Regions from separate parts of the Homo sapiens genome. Here region 1 is linked to region 2. The links come from fine-mapping of genetic effects on gene expression. A gene starts in region 2. The other region holds a variant in brackets. All regions are shown on one strand. Distances are between the middles of the regions. Region 1 holds the start of LOC105371910 (a long non-coding RNA gene). Region 2 holds the start of LINC01993 (long intergenic non-protein coding RNA 1993).

Region 1 (5,367 bases), 30 kb after region 2:
AGCGGCTGGGGCTGGCCCCAGGCTTGCCGGGCAGACACCTGGGCGGTGCTTGGTGCCTGGTGCCCTCTAGTGGACACTCGGAGCACTCCCGCGCTCCCGACGGGAGCCAGACAGCAGCATCTGAAGAGTTAATAGGGGAGGGGCCCAGTGCCCCCCAGCTGGGACGTCTGTCTAGATGCACAGAACAGAGGAAAGGCTCCAAGGCCCAGGCCTCGGGGGAGCAGACACAGGACTCAGGGTCTGGCTCCTTACTCCAGAGGAGCCCCCCACTCCGCCAAGAGGTGCCCCTGGACCCCTCAGCCCTCATCCTCTTCCTGACCCACAGAGGGCTGGAGTGCACTCCCACTCCCTCCCAGAGCTGCCCCACTGCACTCTGGACTGGCTGAGCTGGAGAGGATGATCACGCGGGGCCTCCAGAGTCCCTACCACCAGGTCTGCGAGCTCATTTGCCTGGAGAACTCACACAGCATCTCGGGGGTCCGGATCCTCCCCATCAACTACCTACGCCAGGTAGGCCCAGCCCCACCACTGTGTGCCCCCCACCAGCCTGATCCTGGCTTCCTGTGCCCCTGGCCCATCCTGGGGTTCAGTCCCCTCTGATTTATGCCATGGGCACCCATCAGCGGCCAGACCTGTCACAGGAAGGACACATGTGTGGTCCTAGGCTGAGACACAAAGGGAATTATTACCCCAGGTCAGGGCCCCTAGTCCCTGCACCAGCCCAACAGCAGAGATGCCCCCACCCCCAAGTCCCCAGAGCTGAGTCCCAGAGCAGCACCAGGACCTGCTGCCCTGGCGCAGAAACGTGTGCCCCATGAGGCTGCAGGAACAAGCTCGTGTGAGTGCCCTCCACCTGGTCCTTGCCACCCACGTGCGAGGTGAGGAGGCCGCAGTGTCTGAGCTCTGCTGTTTACCAGACACTAGTTAGGCAGCAGCCTAACTCTCCAAGCCTTGCGTTCCTTGCCTGTGAAATGGGAGCAGCGGCGTCTCCCTCGAGTTGTTGTGCAGCCTAAATGAGGTGACACACATTTACCCTTGGCCCACGGTCGTTTGGCCCATGCTCAGTGTGCGACAAAGCTGGGTTAAATGTGCACCCCCAGATCCTCCCAGAGCCCAGCATGGAGGCTTAGGCAGCACAGCCTGACTGCTTGGGTCCCAGATCACCAGAGCCAGTCACCAGCCAGGTCTCCTGATCCCTCCTGATTCCTCAGGCAGCTAAGCCCAGGACCCTCCTCCCTCTATGCCTCCCTCAGGCCTGGCCCCTCTGACTCTGCCTGCACCTCACCCCCAGGTGCACCTCCTGGCCCAGACCTATGGGGCCTGGGTCCACCTGGACAGGGCCCAGCTGATGAACGTGGTGCTGGCCCTGCATGTCCCGCCCACCTACATTGTGGAGCACTGTGACTCTGTGTCTTTCTGCCTCTCCAAGGTGGGAAAGCCCTGGGCTGGCCTCCCACAGACAGGTGGGGTGGGGCGCCCCAGCAGGAGGCAGGGTTGGATTCCTGAGCTCCATCCCTGGCAGCTGGCCCCAGGTTCCCCTTTAACACCTCTGCAGATGGGGCTACGCATCTGTCCCCACCCTGGCCCAAGGACAGGGATGTGAGCTGGCAGGAGTCTCTCCTCTCCACCTCCCAGGGCCTGGGCGCCCCAGTGGGGTCCCTGGCTGGGAGGCCCAAGGACTTCATTGAAGAAGCCTGGCGCCTCCAAAAAGCCCTGGGTGGAAGCATGCACCAGGTGGGGATGCTGGCTGCGGTGGCCCTGGTGGGACTGGTTGACACAAAGCAGGCACTGTGGCAAGACCATGGGAACGCCCAGAGATTCACCCAAGGTGCCTGGACAGGACGCCCCACCCTCGCTTCCCTGTGCTTCCTCTGACTTGGCCTGAGCTGTGCCGTCGGGGGTCCCCCAGCAGGCCTGCAGGCTTCTGGATCCTGGGACTCAGGGTGGCCATTGAGTCACTAGGGCGGGACCCAGGGCACCAGCTGCTTCAGCAGACCCTACTCAGCGCAGAGTCCAGCCTGGGGAAGCCCTCGGTGGACGGCCAGGATTGTGATGCTCTGCAGAGTCTGGCAGAGCCTCTAACCTGGGTCTTCCATCTGCTCACTGAGTCCTCCAACAATCCCATGATGTCCCTACTTCACAATGAGGAAACAGAGGCCCAGAGAGGTCAATAGGTTTGTCTGAGATCACATAGCTAAACGCAGCAGAGCCCAGTCTGTGTGACTGCAAAGGCCAAGTCAGGACACAGGGCCCTTCCTTCTCCTACCGTGACCGAACTGCCCCCTGCCTCCCGGGTGACCTTGCTGGCAATGGGGTCAGGGTCAGGGCCTGGGGTCACCTCTGCTCACCTCAGGACCTGGCCCAGGACTCCAGGAGCTGGTGTTGTCCGTCTGCTCAGTTGATCCCACCTTCGTGGAGACGAACATGGTGGTGGTGAGCATGGCTGGGTTGCGGGCCGTGAGTGCTGATGAGCTGGCCCACACTGGCCACGTGGCGTGCGTGCCACTGTTCCTATGGACAGAGCAGTCCGTGCTTCCGTGTGGCACCGCGACGTCTCGGTGTAGGACACTGAACTGGTGCTGAGGAAGTGGGAGTTTGTGCTGAGGCCGTTGGAGTCCTGAGGACGGAGTGACCGGGACCCTGTGCCCGGGCTGGGGTGGAAGCAGGGAGTGGAGGTGTTCCCAGCAAGCAGGCAGCAGAGGAGGTGTTACCTGCTCCTGGGGCTCTTTGGTCCCCTTCACCCCCACAACACTCAGGGTTAGGACCTCCCCCATGCTTGTCAGCACACACTGAATTCCTCCAGTGTCTGGGACAGGGTGTAGGGACAGGAAGGACACCCTTCCAGCTCCCGTCACCAGAGCTCGGGAGGCAGCGGGGCAGGCCTTCGCTCTAGGTCAGAGAGGAGCCCTTT[C/G]TTCAGGGCCACGTGGCCAGTTACAGCTTCCTGAGTTCAGGAAGGGAAACGTCAGAAGGAAGCAGAAAGGGACATGGGAACTTGATGGTCAGGGCTTTAACTGCCGTGGTGAGGGATTTCCATTTTATCTTGTGGTCCTCTAATACGTATTTTCCTTTTTAGAAAATAAATTACTCAGGGCCGGGCATGGTGGCTCACGCCTGTAATCCCAGCACTTTGGGAGGCCGAGGTGGGTGGATCACTTGAGGTCAGGAGTTCGAGACCAGCCTGGCCAACATGGTGAAACCCCATCTCTACTAAAAATACAAAAATTAGCCAGGTGTGGTGGTGCGTACCCGTAGTCCCAGCTACTCGGGAGGCAGAGGTGAGAGAATCGCTTGAACTGGGGAGGTGGGGGTTGCAGTGAGCCGAGATTACGCCACTGCACTCCGGCCTGGGTAACAGAGCCAGACTCCGTCTCAAAAAAAAAAAAAAGGAAAAGAAATTACTCTGCTTAACAAAATAATATGTCTGTATTGTAGATGATGTGGGAGTAAATCTTACTTTTAGCAACTCTTAGGGTAGTTCAGGCAGACTCAGTCAAAAAAAAAAAAATGAAGCCAGGCGTGGTGGGGTGTGCATCTGTGGTCCCAGCTACGTGGGAGCCTGGGGTAGGAGGATCATTTAAGTCCAGGAGGTGGAGTCTGCAGTGAGCCGAGATCACACCACTGCATTCCAGCCTGGGCGACAGAGGGAGACCCTGTCTCAACAAATAAACAAACAAACAATCTGATAGTACTGAAGAGCCTGCAAGGCAGTCATGAATTGTGAGGTCAAGATCTGGGAGAAGAGGGAACCTAGAGAGGTGAGCCTGGCATTTGGGACACTTTTCCTCGACGCGTCTGCTCGGGAGCTGAGGAACTGAGCAGAACTTTTCACAGGCACACAGGGCTGAGGGCAGAAGCTGAAGTTCAAGGCCTGCTGAAAGACCCTGGTAAGAGTCCCTCAAGCAAGACTCTGTCTCAAAAAACAAACAAACAAACAAAAAAACCCTCAAGCTTTGGGTTGAGTCCCTGAGGGGCCACCCACTAGGAGTAAGGGCAATTGGAAGTAGACTGACCATCGTGAGAAGTGAAGCCAGCTGTGAAGCACTGTGATCCCTGATTACGGCAATCTGGGGTGGTGGGTGCCTCTGGCCTAGCTGCCTGCCAGAAGTAAAGATCCGTCTTCTCTGGAGGAAGGTGACGTCTCCCAGAGCCTCCAATTTCCTCTACAGTTATTCATGTGGGATGCCCCCACTCAATCAGAAATAACCAGGTATAGAATGGGACAAGATGTGATTGAAAATGAGAAAAAAATGGACAAAAGAGGCCAGGCGCAGTGGCTCATGCCTCTAATCCCAGCACTTTGGGAGGCAGAGGCGGGCAGATCACTTGAGGTCAGGAGTTTGAGACCAGCCTGGCCAACATGGTGAAACCCCATCTCTACTAAAAATCCAAAAAAAAATTTAGCTGGTCATAGTGGTGTGGGCCTGTAATCCCAGCTATTCGGGAGGCTGAGGCAAGCGAATCATTTGAACCCAGGAGGTGGAGGTTGCAGTGAGCCAAGATCACACTGTTGTACTCCAGCCTGTGTGACACAGCAAGACTCTGTCTCCAAAAAAAAAAAAAAAGAAACAGACCCTTAGGTGACCCAGATAACAAAGTGGCTTGTGCCTGTAGTCCCAGCTACCCAGGAGGCTGAGGTGGGAGGATCACTTGAGCCCAGGAGTTCAAGGCTGCAGTGAACCGTGATCATGCCACTGCACTCCAACCTGGGTGACAGAGCGAGACCCATCTCTAAAAAAATAAATAGCTTGAGTGTGGTGGCTCATGCCTACAATCCCAGCACTTTGGGAGGCCGAGGTGGGTGGATCACTTGAGATCAGGAGTTCGAGACCAGCCTAGCAAACATGGTGAAACTCCATCTCTACTAAAAATACAAAAATTAGCTGGGCATGGTGGCACACACCTGTAATCCCAGCTACTCTGGAGGCTGAGGCAGGAGAATCGCTTGAACCCGGGAGGCAGAGGTTGCAGTTAGCCAAGATTGCGCCACTGCACTCCAGCCTGGGTGACGGTGAGACTCCGTCTCAAAATAAATAAATAAATTAATTAATTAAATTAAATATTCTAGGCTGGGTGTGGTGGCTCATGCTTGTAATCCCAGCATTTTGGGAGTCCGAGGCAGGCAGATTGCTTGAACCCAGGAGTTTGAAACCAGCCTGGGCAACATGGTAAAACCCTGTTTCTACTTAAAAGTACAAAAATTAGCCAGATGTGGCACCTGTAGACCCAGCTACATGGGGGACTGAGGTGGGAGGATTGCTTGAGCCTCCCAGGAGGTGGAGGTTGCAGTGAGCTAAGATTGTGCCACTGCATTCCAGCCTGGGTGACACAGAGAGACCCCCATCTCAAAAAAATAAAAAATAAAATATT
Region 2 (5,367 bases):
CCCAGACCAACTTCCTCCCAAACCATTGTCTGTTCTTTGGTCCTATTTGATTCCCAAAGAGAATTATTCACTAACCATTGTCTGAGCAAGGGGCCCATTCATTTCATTTCCCCCCAAAAATCATTGACTTTGCCTCAAAGAGGTGGTTTCCCACCACCTCTTCTCCCATGAGGAAGGGCATGGCAGGTTCTGGACCCCTCTGGATTACTGGGTAATCACGTCCGGGGAGTCCTGTGCTATGCAGTTACAGTAAATTTTGTGAGCCTTTTCTCCTATGAATCTGCCTTTTGTCCGCTGATTTTTCGGCGAAGCTTCAGAGGGCAAAGGGCAGCTTTCTCTTCCTAACCCAGAATCCGACCACTTCTCAGCCCTTCCACTGCCACCCCTGGCCGCAGCCCCTGGCATCTCCTGCCCGGGGAACTTGGTTCCCTCCGTGCTCTGCCTGTTTCCACCACAACCTCCCCAGGGCACCTGGGTTGATGTTGCAGGGCCCCCTCCCACTACATGGCCCCTGCACAGACCATACTCTTCCCAAGGCCCAGGGCTCCCTGTGCCTGGCTCCAGCCTCCTTATGGTTTCTGGAACATACACCGGTGTGTCCTCCTTGCTCATCCTGACTTGTCACCTGTATCTTTCTCTCCCTACTGGAGCCCTGCAAAGCAGGCATTTTCATCTGCTGGGATATCCCCAGCCCCTGGAACAGCCCAGGCTCATAATAGACACCGAGTTTGCAGAATAAGTGAATGAATGGGAGACTGAAGGAGTGAGCTTGCTTGTACACAACCACCTCTCAGAACACACATGCATCTGTCTGCACCGGTCTGTCATTTTGAATTCTGGGGCAGGGAGGAGTGCCATTGATTTGCTTCATTCATTCGCCTGGTGGTGTGTGTCCCTCCCTTTTGACTATAGCTTACCTGGCATGCACCTTCTTCCTCACTGCCCCAAGGCCTGACCTGGAGTCCGGCCTGCCATAGGCGCCCCTGCATTCCTGCTGATGACCAGAGGGCTTCAGTGGTCTTGCCTGGAGAGAGTGACCAGTTGTGGTTGGGTCTCATTTGCATGTGCTTTGCATAATGCTTTGCATAACCTCCTACAAGCCACATTGAGCAGGGAAGGTGGGGTGCAGAGAGGACTGGCCCTGGGGCCCCCTGAGAGCTGACCCCTGCAGCAGATGTTCTGGGGTTTGGGGCTCCTTGGGGACCAGCTCCACCTGGTGCCAGTCTCCCCAGGCCAGGTTAGGGGTGCAGATCTGGACACAGTGAGGGTGAGGGTACAGGCTTCCCTCGCCAGACGCGGCTTCTCCCTTCCTCTCCCTGGGAAAGGGGAGGCCTCACTGCAAGCCCCAGGAACCTGCCCCAAGGCCCTCCGAAGTTCAGGCCCTGCCTCCCTGCACTGAAGAGGCTGGGGTTGGGGGGCAAGTGTCACCCACGCCTCAGAGTGAGCCCTAGATCTGAGGAGAGACAAGATGGGGAGGAGGGGAAGGGGGTCAGCTCAGAGGGCAGCCCTGCCCACTCTGCCATGTCCCAGCTTTCAGACGTGGCTGAGAGGACATGAGATGCCCCGCTCCCCGGAGCGGGTCACAGAACTCGGGGTAAGTTTCTGGTCTGCCTACCTGGCAGATGCCCCTAGAGAGTGGCCTCCCCAACAGCACCGACCACCCCAGGGCAGGTGGGGAGCAGCGTCCCCCACCCCATGACCCCGGCCAGCCTGGCCACCCTGCTGGGCCACATGGTGCCACAGGTCAGCAGGGGTCTTCAGGCCATGTGAGGAAGGTGTCTGGGCTGGTGGCCAGGCTGGGTGGGAGGGGTGGGGGCAGGTGGAGCTGGGTGGGTGATTGGGTGACCTCGACCCCTCAGCAGGCTGCACCAACCCTGGCTGGAGCTGCCACTGGCCTCAGCTTCCCTTCTCAGCAACTGTGACCTCAAGCAGCTGCTGCACCTGTTGGGTGTGGGTGAGCCCGGCTCTTCTTTCCCTTCCAGGGGAGGAGTCAGCCCAGGAGTCAACTACGAGGTCGGGGAGGGGATTAAGGAGCTGAGAACAGGAGACAGCAGAGGGGACAGGCTGTCTTCAAGCACAGCTGGCACCTGGGGAAAGCCGCCTCCTCCCTCCCACTGCCCCCACCCCCGCTTGTTACTGGAAATGAGGAGAGCCTCCCAGGTCCCAGCAGAGCTGCTGCTGGTAAGTCCCTTCCCCAGCGGCCCCTCCACCCCTCACAGGCCCAGCTGTGCCAGCCCAGCCTGGGCCCTACTCCCGGCTCCTGCTTTAGGTGGTCTCCTGTGGCCTGAGGCCCTGGGGGTGGGCAGGGGTAGGCACCCAGGCCCAGAGGCTCTGCGCCTGTCTCCAGGCTTCCCTGCTGCCTGGGCTCTGTGGTGGGAGGCGGGGTTGCAGGTGAGGGGAGTCCTCCGTAATCAACCCCGGTTTATAGGAATTGGGGCCCCAGTGCCCAGACTCATGGGCCTCCAGGGGAGCAGGTGGGAGGCTCTGCCCAGCCCACCTCCCTCTGAGTATGGATCTGAGGTCACACACACCTGGCTGGAAGTGACTTATCCTGTGAACCTCAGCGTCCTTACCTGTAAAAGGTAACAAAATTCTCTCTTCCTCCAAGTGGCTGAGAAAGGTAGAAAAACAGAGTAAGAGCAGCTGGTCCCAGCCCCGTGAGCACCGGCCGGGACCCCTCGGGTGGGATCCCATCGTACCATCTCTGCCCATGATCCAAGGAGACCATTTCAGAGAGGCTGAACAACATGCCGGGCTCAGGGCACGGGGCAGGCTTTAGTTTTGCCACAGCCAGCCGGCTGGTGAGCAGGGGCGGGGCAGCCGTGGGCCTGGAGAGTGGGGGCGACTTCTTCCTACCCCCTCCCAGAAGGAGAAAGCCCACATTTTTAGGTACCACAGCAGCCCTTTTGGGCAACAGGCTTCCCCTTTTTTTTTTTTTTTGGAGACAGAGTCTTGCCCTGTCGCCCAGGCTGGAGTGCAGTGGTGTGATCTCGGCTGACTGCAACCTCCGCCTCCCAGGTTCAAGCAATTCTCCTGCCTCAGTCTCCCGAGTAGATGGGATTACGCCCACCACCATGCCCGGCTAATTTTTGTATTTTTAGTAGAGACGACAGGGTTCCACCATGTTGGCCAGACTGGTCTGGAACTCCTGACCTCAGATGATCCACCCACCTTGGCCTCCCAAAGTGCTGGGATTACAGGTGTGAGCCACTGTACCCGACCCTCTTTTTTTAAAAAAACCTTTTAAGTTCAGGGGTCCACGTGCAGGTTTGTTATATAGGTAAGCCCGTGACATTGGGGTTTGTTGTACAGATTATTTCAGCACGCAGGTACTAAGTCTAGTACGCATTAGTTATTTTTCCTGATCCTCTTCCTCCTCCCAGCCTCCACCCTCTGATAGGATCCAGGGTCGGCTGGTCTATTCTATGCAGATTCTTAGAAATATCAACTGAGACCGGGTGCGGTGGCTCATTCCTGTAATCCCAGCACTTTGGGAGGCCGAGGTGGGCGGATCACCTGAGGTCAGGAGTTTGAGACCAGCCTGGCCAACATGGCAAAACCCCGTCTCTACTAAAAATAACAAAATTAGCTGGGCATGGTGGCACCTGTAATCCCAGCTACTCAGGAGGCTGAGGCAGGAGAATTGCTTGAACCTGGGAGGCGGAGGTTGCAGTGAGCCGAGATCGCACCACTGCACTCCAGCCTGGGTGACAGAGCAAGACTCCATCTCAAAAAAAAAAAAAAAAAAAAAAAGATAAATACCCCTGATGGAATGCAAGGGGAAAGTTCCGCCCTTAGCCCATCAATCCTGGCAGGTGCTCCACCCTCCCACCTGGGGACCCAGGTGGCAACCGGCAGAGCGAGCTCAGAAACTCCACGTCAAGGTAGCAAAGCAGCATCCGCCTGGGTCCCCTAAGGGAGTAGGGCTGCATAGACCGGGTGCACCCGCCCTGGGCTGTTACAGAAGGAGAAATAAACTTCTCCACAAGCCACAGCTGCTATTGTTGGCTACCGTGCTGCAGCTGCTGAGCTGGTATGTGTCTTTGTGTGACTGGCTGATTTCACTTAGTGTGATGTCTCCAAGGTTCATCCACATGATAGCATAGGTCAGAATTTCCTTCCTTTGTTAAGGCTGAATAATATTCCACAGTATGGATAGACCATAGTTTGTTTATCCATTCATGTATCCATGGACACTAGGGTTGCTTCTATCTTTTGGCTATTGCAAATGAATAATGCTGCTATGAACGCGGGTGAACATATCTCTTTGAGTTCTGCAGCTGCTGAGCCTACCTGAACTAGCGCCAGTTACAAGAAACAGAAACTCACCTCAAACCAGCCGAAGTCAAATGGAGCCTGAAATGCAAACTAAAACCACAAGACGACGCCACTCAATACCTATTAGGACGGCTACTATTTTTTTTAAAAAAAAAACAACAGAAAATAACAAGTGTTGGTGAAGATGTGGAGAAATTGGAATCCTGTGCACTCAATTTTTTTTTTTGAGGTGGAGTCTCACTGTCATCCAGGCTGGAGTGCAGTGGCACTATCTCGGCCCACCACAACCTCCACCTCCTGGATTCAAGCGATTCTCGTGCCTCAGCCTCCTGAGTAGCTGGGATTACAGGCATGCTTCACCATGGCCCGACTAATTTTTATATTTTTAGTAGAGACGGGGTTTCACCATGTTGGCCAGGCCGGTCTCAAACTCCTGACCTCAAGTGATCCACCCGCCATGGCCTCCCAAAGTGCTGGGATTACAGGTGTGAGCCACAGCGCTTGGCCCTGTGCACTCAATTTTGGTGGGAATGGAAAATGGTACAATTGCTGTGGAAAACAGTGTGGTGAGATGCTCCAAAAATTAAACATAGAATTAGCGTATAACCCAGCACTTCCACTCCTGTATCTATCCCCAAAAGAATTAAAAGCAGAGACTCAGAGATATGTTCACCCACGTTCATAGCAGCATTATTCATTTGCAATAGCCAGAAGATAGAAGCAACCCTAGTATCCATGGATGCATGAATGGATAAACAAACTATGGTCTATCCATACGGTGGAATATTATTCAGCCTTAAAAAGGAAGGAAATTCTGACCTATGCTATCACGTGGATGCACCTTGAAGACATCACACTAAATGAAATCAGCCAGTCACACAAAGACACATACCGTGTGATTCCACTCATGTGAGATTGTTAGATTTATAGAGACAGAAAATAGCATGGTGGTTGCCAGGGGTTGGGGTCCAGGGGAATGGGGAGCTAGTGTTAATTAATGGGGACAGTTTCAGTTTGGGAAGATTAGAATGTTCAGGAGCTGGAGAGCAACTGTGCAACAGTGGTAATTACTTAATGCCACTGAACTGT

The links.
Region 1: its variant is fine-mapped to the expression of LINC01993 in lung (GTEx, PIP above 0.99). The same link has a PIP of 0.9 or more in thyroid and visceral fat.

Annotation. Positions count from the first base shown.
Region 1 is chr17:78,245,747-78,251,113 of GRCh38, reverse strand. It overlaps LOC105371910 (a long non-coding RNA gene), which reads right to left and starts at 2,798. Exons shown (of 2, transcript NR_164160.1): 1 at 2,349-2,798. It also overlaps the pseudogene THA1P. RefSeq lists enhancers at 175-224, 406-1,051 and a silencer at 4,439-4,639. The variant C/G (reference allele first, on the strand shown) is at 2,912.
Region 2 is chr17:78,275,258-78,280,624 of GRCh38, reverse strand. LINC01993 (long intergenic non-protein coding RNA 1993) reads left to right here and starts at 2,133. Exons shown (of 7, transcript NR_073178.1): 1 at 2,133-2,181. RefSeq lists enhancers at 1,600-2,433, 2,434-3,267, 3,829-3,878, 4,109-4,378.